3 linked regions of the Homo sapiens genome follow. The protein of the gene in region 1 purifies or fractionates together with the protein of each later gene. This does not show direct contact. Each region holds a gene or a part of one and is shown on either strand. Other genes may lie near its edges.

Region 1 (3,928 bases):
GATGGTCCGGTTTAATTTTTGACTCCGTTGTAATTGCTGGATCAGTTCTAGACATGTATTTTCCAGTTGCCTCTAGTTTTTGAACTTGCAGACAAAGGAGAACTTGTCTTCACAAGGCACATCCTTCCATTTCTGGAATCCTATAAGTCAATGAGAAGAGTTACAACTGGGAGACCCGAAAGAGTATGACCCTCCTGGCTTTAGGACTCAGGACAAAAACCAAACATCCATTTCCTTAATGAGGAGTTCACCTTTCCTCTATCCCAGTCCCAGTTCCATCCCTGGAGCTAAGCAGGAGAGAACAGAAACAGGTGGATGGATTCTCTGCCTCTCACCTGTGCTTGAGGTCAGGCTCACACAGTAGCCAGGATTAACACTGCTTGGGGCTCCAATGCCCCAGGACTTGTAGGAGACCAGGGACCCACTGCTCCAGTGCCAGCGGCGGTTCTAGATGGGGAAGGGCCAGAACAGAGGCAGTGGTCACTCAAAAATACATGGAATCACTGGGCCTGTGTGCACACTCAGAAACATGCTAAGACACAAAGGAAGAATAAACCTTGCTAAATATTGTTTCCTTTCCTTTGCTATTGCTCTAAACTTCTTTCCTGAACTGTCCAACTCATTAACTGTATTCCACCAAGAAATAAGTGTTATGAATTTGACAGAGACCCAAAGTATCTCACTTAAAAAGTGGTTCCTGATTTTTTGTCTTTGTGGCCCAGGACCCTCATATCCAGCATAGCATTGGCTGACCATTAGTTGTTGATATATTATATTATTTAGTATACTACCAGGTTCCCAAATGCCAGCAGTACAGCAGCAGATTTTTACCACAAGTCTCCTTTCCTATATAGTCGGCAATCTAGTCTCTCTTGTGACTCTGACAGTAACAAAATAGGTAAGAAGTTGGTGCATAAAGATGCTTTGTTGACTGAAAACAGAATAAGTTTATTCATGAATGACAAGAACACCTAGGAAATTCAGCCTTCCACTTATATCTCCAATCATCTACAGTGCACCTTGCTACACAGGACATTAGAGGATCTGTAAACAGCCTGATTTCTGGAAAGCGATAAAAGCTGGTACTTAAGAGACCAGAACTTGAACCTCCTTCTTACTTCTCAAACCTGATCATTAGGAGATAAAGAAGGCTGCAGCCTACCTTTTTGGGGTCATGGAGGCCAATCCAGACATTGAAGTCATCAGTGCCACTCTCCTTAATCAGTGAGGCCACAAAGGCACCCTCGGCCTGGGTGAGCACAGACACCAGGTTGCCCGAATTCATGTTCTGGCAATAGAGCTGTTGCAGAAGAAAATGGAGCACTCAGTGGAGGAGGAAGTTGTGACGGATATACTGAGTCCTCCAAGAGGACGGGTCAGAAAAAGGACAGCAGAGTAATGTCCGTGATGATGCTGTCACTGACCACCAGGTTCTTTGTGCTGGGAATGTGCTGAATAATGGGATAAAGTAGATTGGAAAGTTTGGGGCTGATGATAGTATAGCAAGGGGTTCAGTCTCATCTCATTGCAGCCACTGAACACACTGGAGAGTGGCAGCTTCCCCTCCCTTCATGAGTCTCCCTTCCCACACTGCTCTCCTCACTCACATCTGCATCAACCCAGGTCTCACGGTCTTCATTAAAGTAGTAGCAGTAGGAGCGATAGGCATTGGTGCCTTCTGGGCAGCTGATCCGGGCCTGGGGCAACTCTGTCTGGGCCTCTTGGCCTGAAAAAGAAGAGACAATTAAAGGAGGCTCTCAGGGTAAGGAAAAGGCTTGAAGGTGAGGTAAGAGCTTCTGAGGTTCCTTTATAGAAACAGAAGAATCCAGTCTATTATGGGATGACTGCTCACTATTGCTCCTGCATCCTACATCTTCTGTCTTTGGTTTCTTTGATCAGGGGAAAAAAAACAGAATGAATAGGCCAAAGAAACAAGTCTCCAGTTTCCCTTTTATGTCTGGAGCTCAGGCTCTTCTACCTTGAAGGACTCAGCCTTCTACTTTCTCAAGCCTGACTTGGTTTCCCTGAACACAAGGCTCTCTTCAGTTCTCCACCCCATTAGTGACTGTCTACACACAGACATCCCCAAATCCACCATCACGTATAAATTTAATCAGATAAACTCATGCCAACTGCAGCAGTTGCTTATAAGGGGTCATTTTAAATTCTAGCTCCAACTCCTTAATGAGGTGTGGATGTATATAAATGTGAAGAGATCAGCAATAAAGATCACTAAACACCACAAAACAACCCTTAACAGTGACTCTGCTTTTTTTTTTTTTTTCAAGTAGACCCGTATGCTTGGGGATAGAGTGAAGTCTTCAGGGCTAGAAAGAGTTGGTTGGTGGAAAAGAGATCTTACCTTGGCTCTGAGACAGAAACATCAGGCAGGAGATCAGCATGAAGTATGAGCTGGTCTGAGCCATGCTGAGCTGCAATGAATCTCTTGCTTAAGAGGCAAATCAACAATCTCTATAGGAGAACACAGAGAAGGGGGTTCTGAGAGATGGAGAGCAAAGCACCTATTACCTTCCTTAAAACCTCCTCTCAGAATTTCTGAGACCAGGAAGGTCCTCTGAGACACCCACACCTTCAAATGTTTCTCTTGAGAGTGGGGATTATACAGACTCAGTAACTGAAAAACAACTTTGGATCCCACTGAGGCTTCATTACAGCTAAAACCTCTTGGACAGAAACTCATGCTGTATCTTCCCGAAGATTTTAGATCTACAGTGCATGTTAGAGACGCCCTTCTCCTGTAATGCCCACTTACCTGTTGGCTGAGTCTGAGTTGGCTTCTCAGGCCAGGTAGCTGTAGGAGCTTTATATCAGGATCTGAGATAAGAACCACGTCATTTAAGCAAAAGGGGTGGGGGCAAGCGGTGAGTTTTGGGAGCATTGACAGTAAGAGATTCTGGCACCAGTACGAGCCTTTTCCCGGCACACACTGGGAGTGGTCACAACTCAGGTCCCCTTCTGGCAAAAAATTTGGCAAGCTGTCTAAGTCCAAGGTGGACTTTGCTCTTGCTCAGCAGAAAACAACTGAGGGCTCCCATGTGCCCTAATAACCCAGAGAGGAGCAGAGAACAGTAGACTTCCTTGTATTCCCTGTAAATTTAGAGGCTCCTCTTTGGTGTCAGGCATGGGTAGGAGATGGGGAAGAATTAACTGATTCCAAATAATTTAGAACAATGTGCTTGTGGCAATAAGTGGTTCCTCCATGTCTTTTTAGGCTCACAAACCTCTCAAGACCTACCTCAAGGGGTAGGTTAAATTTATATTTCTAAACATTTAACATGTCTAACAAGGTTTGAGCTAACAAAATACACATATTCTCAATGTGAGAATTGTAGAGAGCTGATGCCTAAGGAAGCTTAAAGGAGCTAAATATGAAGTCAGGCTTCATTGAAATTGTCCATTTGAAGTCAACTGTTTGTTAGTATGAAGTCAAAGATTGTGTGGTGAAATTGAGTATTTACCAGAATCATCATAGAATAGTCATTTATAATTCAGGGAATAAAAGCCAATCAGAATGCAAAATTAGGAAGAAAAAACTAACCTGAATATTCACAGAAAGAGAGATAAGTATATGAATTGGGACAAATGGATTAACAAAATATAATAAAATACTAAACAGAATTTAAATCGAATAAAGTAGATATCTATATTTCAACTTGGACTAGTATCAAAGCCATAACATTGAATACAAAAATTCAGTTGCAAGAAGTTATAAGCTATTTGATAAACTTTATATATGGTTTTAAAAGACAGATTAATACTAAATTTTATTTATTAATCAATTCTTATACAGTTTAAAAAATAAAAATCTGAAATGTAAGAATATATATTACAATTTGTCATAGTATTTGCCTAACAATTTTAAGGTTTTTTTTTCTTTATATAAAAACTGATGATGGGCCTGGTGTGG
Region 2 (3,500 bases), on another chromosome or scaffold:
TGGGGAAGTTAGGAATGAGTTACATGAACACTGGGGGCCAGGGGAGCTTCCAGATAGAGGGAACAGTAAGTGAAGACACCCCTGTTTCAAATAGGAGGCAGGCCGCATGGCTGGTACAGAGTGAGCATGGGAGGGTAAGGGGATAACAGCAGAGAGTTAGAAGGGCAGGGCCTGGAGAGGCCATCATAAGACCTGAACTTCTCTGCCAAGTGCACCAAGAAACCCAGGTGGAGGGGCCAGGAAGGCATCTGGGCATGGGCGTCTCAAGATTAGGTCTGAGCTAAAGATGGAAATTTGGGGGTCAGCACAAGTGTAGAAAAAAAGGCTAAGAGTTTGTAAGATGGCGCCTTAGGGCATCAAGTGTTCAAGTAAAGGAGACCGTGTGGCTCAGTGAGGTGAGAGGAGAACCCCATGGTCTCAGAAGCTGAGTGAAGACAGCATTTCAGGCTGTCCCAGGAGTGGGAAGCTGTTCAAGAGGAGCTGATGGCTCAGTGCACATCATATTTGTACATTTCTTCCAGGAAAGAGAAATTGAAGATGCAGATGCAGGAGGGAAAGAGAATTGCAGGAGGAGGGTCCCGAGTACTGAGGGGGTCTCTCGCCCGCACTCCGTGCCTATTGACAGGAGAGCAAGTAGCATATGGGTGCAGATGCCTGTGTGCGTGGGTTCGGTGGGCGGGGGGGGGGGGGGACTTTGGCAAAGACTTCTTCCTGTTTTCTCTTCTTAGTGATGAAATAGGAAGCCCCTGAGATGGCGGGGCTGGAGGTGAGGGTGCGGGTGGGCAGACAAGAGGAGATAAAGCAGTTCAGTCGTCGAAAGGTGTGGTGGAGTGACTCCCTGCACTGTATTAGAGCAGTGATTCTCAAGGAGTGGGCCAGGGTTTGGGGTCCCCAAGATTGTTTCAGGTGTTGTGTGAGGTTAGAGCTATCTTCATGATGTATTAAGAAGGTTTTTCATCTTTTCCACTGTCATTCCCTCACAAGTAGACAGTGGAGCTTCCCAAGGTGTGATCTTTCAGCAGCAAGCATAACAAATGCTTGAGAATCCCGTTGTCTTTTAAGCAGGACGTTGCAGAATTGTTAAAACAATGCCATTGTTGTCACTGGATTTTGTTTTGTTTTGTTTTCGGAAGTATAGTGATTTTTTTGGTAAAGGTATTTGTGTTAACGTGTAATTGATTTATTATTTTTGAGTGAATATTTAAAATTTTTAAATCTCAGTAGATATTACGCGTATAAACAAAAGTTCTTTGGAGTCTTCAGTAACTTTTTAGCGTAAAGGAGTTCTGAAACCAAACAGTTTAAGAACTGCTGGACTACAGAAATATGATATGACTAGCATTGTTATGGGTCTCAAAGGAGAATTTGACTAGAAATCAGAAGAGAACAGTTGAAAAGTAGCTGGTTTTGAACCTGACAAAATAGTGGCTCCATTAATTGACTAGGGAAGTGAGGGGATGGAGATGGGTTTTCAGAATGCAGATTTGGGAATGGTGTGCTGGGATGTGCTGGTGAGCTGCCCACAGCATCGGAGCCAGGTTGGGAGGCATCCACTAAGAACACGTGATTGAACACATAGGAATGGGGATGGTGGGGACAGGGAGGTGGGAGTGTAGAATAGGAGTGGGGAGCAAAAACCGAGTGGTGGGAGTGACCACATTTAGAGGGTGGAATAAAGGAGCAATTGTCAGGGAAGACCCAGACACAGGCGGGGAGGATCCATGGGGTTGGATGCTGCAGCGGGCGAGTTTGACCTTCTGTCTCTGCGAGATACATCCCTAGTTGGTCTCCAGTTCCATTAGCAATTTATTGCCACTTAGAAAACACAAGATGTAGATTTATTAACTTGAATTTTAAAGAAGCAAGTAGCAGTTAAGTGAAAAAATATGTAAACACCTTAATAGTGGCTGTGACAGCTTATTATGGCTATTAGGTAGATTAAATCATCTGCCTCAGCCCTAAAGTTGGCCTTAAAGTTGTTGATGAAACATGTTTTGTTTTCCTTGTGGCATATTACTGTTAGCTTTAGCAGGCTTATTTCAACTGGTTATTGTAAACGCTGCTTACTAGAGACATTTCTCTTGTTTCTTTCAGTAACTTGGATCCACTTACAGAAACTGTATCCTTTTTTACAAAAAAAAAAAAGTTGAATGAAGATTTACTGAGAATAAAGAAAACAGAAATGAAAGGAAAACAGAGGAGTACTGAAAAGTTTAAAAACTTGTAGGTCAGGAAACATCATAAGCAACACTGAAAGCAATTTTAAAAAGTGAAACTGAGAACAAGAGTTGTCTTAGATCTGCTGACAAACTGTTAATATCATGACTTGGTAGAAATCTGTAACATCATAGCTCCCCTGCCAACCTTGCCCCTCAGGAGTCAGCATGGCTGTATTCACCAGAAAGCACAGTGACTTCAGCAAGGTGGCTGCATAGTCTCCAGTGTGAACAAAGTCTGGAGATAAGCAGTCCCAGGCAGGTGATGCTTCCATGAAGACACCAACAGCCAGGCTCTTTGCAGTTTAAGCACTCTACCCCTCCCAGGGTGGCCGTAACCTTGTTCCAGATGTTGCCACAGCAAACAGCATCACAGCCATGTTTCCGGCAGCAGAAACAGCAGAGGGGGAGGTGAGGGTGTTCTTCCCTTTTAAGAGTACCTTTGGGCCTGTACTCCCAGCACTTTGGGGGGCCAAGGCAGGCAGATCACGAGGTCAGGCGTTCAAGACCAGCCTGGCCAACATGGTGAAACCCCGTCCGTCTCTAGTAAAAATACAAGAACTAGCCAGCCGTGGTGGCTCACTCCGTAATCCCAGCTACTTAGGAGGCTGAGGCAGGAGAATCGCTTGAACCAGGACCCGGGAGGCAGAGGTTGCAGTGAGCCGAGGTTGCAGTGAGCCGAGATCGCGCCACTGCACTCCAGCCTGGGCTACATGTAGAGCGAGACTCCGTCTCAAAAAAAAAAAAAAAAGGAGAGTACCTTTGGGAAATGCCACACAGGCCCGCTCTGTCTCATTGACCAGCACCTGTTTCATGCTTCACCTGTCTACTGAATCCTATCTAGAGTCCAGAAATGTGCCCTGCTTTATAAATTGGGACTTGTTACTAAAGTGAAGGCTTTGAGGTAACAATGAACAGTGTCTATTATTGTCCTAATGGAAAAATGGGGCAAAGATGTGAAGATAGGATACTGTGGTTATGCTGCTGTAACAGATAACCCCACATCTCTAGTGGCTTACAACACAAAGTTCGGATTCTGTGTTATGCTCTGTATCTACTGTAGGTGGGTAGGAGGGTTCTGCTAACCGGTAATTTATCAAAAGAGGGCATATAGGAGCTTAATGAACGTGTTAAGAGTTCAGTCTCATCAGTCAAAAGACATGTAAACTAAAACCAAAATGAGATGCCATATTTTATGTATCAGCCAAGATTTTAAAAAATGATAAACCTCAGTGCTGATGATGGTGAGGTGAGAGGAACATTCTCATAAATTGCTAGTGACAA
Region 3 (3,500 bases), on another chromosome or scaffold:
AGTAGCCTCAGATAGAATACAGATCTCAAAATGAATAAAGCAAGAAAAAAAAAAACCTGATATCAATTTATTGTTACGGGGAGAGGGAAAGACAACAGGCTAGAAAACAAATGAAAAGCAAATAAGATGTTGATATAAAGTACTTCCAAAACTTTTTATACATTTACCAAAATTATTGCTTTTAGAAATTTACCTGATACATTCCATAAAGACCGAAGTCTGAAGAAATGCTTTGGAAAAGCATATGGTACCAAAAGTGGGAGACAGGAAAAAAAAGCATTTGGTATTGCATAGGTGTTACACAGGTATAAAAAATACTAAATAGTGACTTCAAATCTGTAATTATAAGGCACATGAAGTTCTAAAAGTTTTAACAAACCAAATGTATGATTCATATAACATGTAACTAGTACCCTTATTTACCTGATAGACCTTTGACCTCTGTCCTGTGAATCCATCCCATAAAATAACAGTGCCTTCATAATCACTGCTAGCTAACAGGTTCTTATGGTAACTACTCCAACTGATACAGCTGAAAGAAATACAGTTAAAAGTTACTTTACATAAAAATAAATAACAATGGGATAAAAATAATTTTAATGTGTTCAGAAAGATTTGCACTATTTTAAAATGGTCTCTATCAGTTCACAATCATTATTCTGCCCACAACATACCTGGGAAAAGACATACCAATAATTTTGAAATTTTAAAAATAAAAATTAACAAGTAATGACCCTAACCACCTTTTACTGTGATCACTAGCTGTTAAGATGGATGTGAGCCTAGAGCTATCACTGGCCATCTTTGATACATGAGGAAACGATGTCTATCAGTGAAGGTGATACTATCCAGAGGGCTCAAGGCATACCATGGCAGAATGACAGACCTGATGAGACTGTTTAACCCCCTGGATCCAGTTGTGCCAAATCATATAAGCCAAATAAACTACAGTGAATTGGGTTTCTGTATTTACATCCCAAAAGTCTTGACTTGACTAATTATAACTTATGACTAAAATTCCAATTAAAAGCATCTAAAAGTTAGAATCAAACTTTTATCATTTATGGTTTTGGCTATTCTCAAGTACTCCAGAAGTCTACAACATCTAAAAACTTCTGCTGAGATACATATCTGCATCACGCATATAGTAAAGGGAATGCATATTATGGAAGAAGTTACTTAGAAGGCAGTTAATGTAGGTAACTTCTAAGACATGAACACAAGGTCTTTTGCTTTCTACTAGTTGCATTGATGCTAAATTCCAGAGACTGGAAGAGTTTATTTGCATTTTTAAATATACTTAATTAGAATTTCTGGTAGAAATTATCTGGAACAATTAAGAGACACATTTTGAATTTAGGTAGACTTGAGTTCAAATTCCAGATCTGTTACTTATTAGCTGTGGCTCTGGCTAATTTAGTACACTTTCACAGTAGATGTGCTCCGAATCTATTTTAGGCATCCTTAGGTATTGATCCTTTCAGCCCCAGGCCCACAGCTTTCAGCCTTGAGCGCTTTCACCATTTATTCCAATATATCAGGAAGTATTGCACATTTTTACACATACAAATACAGAACAGGTAGACAGCACATTTAAACTTTCTAATCCACGTTTTCATTATGTAATATATTATGAGTACTTGCCATGGGCCAAGTGTTGTTCTGAGTGCATTATGGGGATTTTTTAAAAGTACAATCCTATTAAATAAGTATTACTATTGTGACCTCCATTTTATAAATAAGGAGCAGGAAATGTTTAAGGGCACAGACTCTAGAACCAAACTACTTCAGTCTGAATCCTGGCTCCTCTATATAGCAGGTGTATAATCTTAGGCAGGTTATTTACCTTCCTGTGCTCAGCTTTCTTTGTATAAAATGGAGCAATAATGGTAACTATTTCATAGGTCTGCTAAAGACCAAGCACTTAGGATAATGCCTGATATATAAGAATTCAATAAACTTGTATCTAATTCATGTTATATCCTCTTCACTTAGGACATAAACTATAACAGATTCTCAATGATGAGTGCCACAAATGAATGGGGAAGCTCACCAATTATCGATATAGTATTTTTATAAATGAACTAGAAAAAAGAAAGTTATAACAAATAAATTATACAAAGACTGTAACAAACATACTATGTATGCCATTCATTAAAGATAAAAAAGGTTCAAGGATGGCTATTTTGAAAATGTTCAAAGTTCTATACAAAGTTATTATTAGATGATTTCCTCATATAATTCTCTTTTAAAGCCAGTGCTCATGAGAACAGCTTGGGAAGCTTGTTTAGAAGGAAAAAAAAAAAAAAAAAAGCAGATTCTAGAATTCTTCTGAGATTTTTTGGGGAGCAGATCAGGAGTAGAGTCTTAACATACTGTTAGTGTTTAAGAGTATTTTAGGTTTGAAAAGCACTGCTTATAAAGTATAATCTCTAATACAGAAAACATAAACACCATTCCTTCAGTGAAAAGCAGAATATTCTTGTAAAAAAAATTCTTAAAACTAGAAACAATTCTAATATGTTGAGATATGTGCAGGCTAGGGGAAAAATTCCTGATGTTCAAATACTATTCATAAGCTACATTAATCCTCATTCAGTACTCCATAGAGTCTCCAACAACCATGTCCAACAAAGACCTTTATTTGATTAAGTGAAAGAAGAACTTTAATTTGGCAACCAGAAAAAAAAAAAAGGCTAACCTCACAAGAAAAAAGCAACCAATATCTGTAAGAAAGATGATATAAGTAATAATATATACTCTGTATACATAGTACAATAATAGTGTTCACCATGAGTAAAAAGTGTCATGCAAAGGTAAAATAATCTCATGATAATTACATATGCAAATTGTTACATCTATACTGCATCATGTCAAGAAAATAATGTAAATACCTGATTTTCGAATTGCAGGTCATTTCATTCTCAGGGTAATGAATATCCACTGCATCCTGGATGACAGTGTCATATTCATAGACTTTAATCTTCTTTGTAACTCCAGCAATCGCAAAATAGTCACAATCCCGGTCAAATTCAATACTAAGGGGAAAAAGTATGTAATGACAACATTTCAGAATTTGCTATTTTCTATTTCTAAAGTAATTCGGTCTACAAGGATAAAAGATCTACTTTAAATACCTTCAAATTGTACTAGACCTCATATCCAGATTAAGTAATCAACACATATCAAATTAAAAGTTGTTGAGATTTGTGTAATATAAAACTTTTAATATATACATTTGTATATCTACACAATTGTGCACAGGTGTACTTTTGTTCCAAGACACCTGACATGCTTTTCATTCAGTTCTAATAACCATATTACAGCTTACTGAGAAAGATTTAATGGCGTGAATCATTTGATATACTAAAAGTATGCCAAAAGACAATTATCAACTAATTTTTCCATACATTCTACTTATTTCCCTGCCATTTTGTGGAGGTAGTAGAATTTCACAATATTAAATTTTATTTTTAATAAATAAATTAGTATATAATTTG

What was found. The genes of interacting proteins can lie anywhere in the genome.
Region 2: the proteins of REG1A (region 1) and NAA20 purify together in Homo sapiens (affinity purification with mass spectrometry; one large-scale study listed by BioGRID and IntAct). This does not show direct contact.
Region 3: the proteins of REG1A (region 1) and COP1 purify together in Homo sapiens (affinity purification with western blotting, with the first as the bait; one study listed by BioGRID). This does not show direct contact.

The regions. Positions count from the first base shown.
Region 1 is NC_000002.12:79,119,360-79,123,287, reverse strand, and holds the start of REG1A (lithostathine-1-alpha precursor), read right to left. Parts: upstream 2,801-3,928; 5' UTR 2,774-2,800; intron 2,473-2,773; 5' UTR 2,427-2,472; coding exon 2,363-2,426; intron 1,727-2,362; coding exon 1,608-1,726; intron 1,301-1,607; coding exon 1,163-1,300; intron 448-1,162; coding exon 336-447; intron 141-335; coding exon 73-140; 3' UTR 1-72. UniProt on the Homo sapiens protein: Might act as an inhibitor of spontaneous calcium carbonate precipitation. May be associated with neuronal sprouting in brain, and with brain and pancreas regeneration.
Region 2 is NC_000020.11:20,020,362-20,023,861, forward strand, and holds part of NAA20 (N-alpha-acetyltransferase 20), read left to right. Parts: intron 1-2,094; coding exon 2,095-2,119; intron 2,120-3,500. UniProt on the Homo sapiens protein: Catalytic subunit of the NatB complex which catalyzes acetylation of the N-terminal methionine residues of peptides beginning with Met-Asp, Met-Glu, Met-Asn and Met-Gln. Proteins with cell cycle functions are overrepresented in the pool of NatB substrates.
Region 3 is NC_000001.11:176,043,287-176,046,786, forward strand, and holds part of COP1 (E3 ubiquitin-protein ligase COP1), read right to left. Parts: intron 3,039-3,500; coding exon 2,895-3,038; intron 533-2,894; coding exon 424-532; intron 1-423. UniProt on the Homo sapiens protein: E3 ubiquitin-protein ligase that mediates ubiquitination and subsequent proteasomal degradation of target proteins.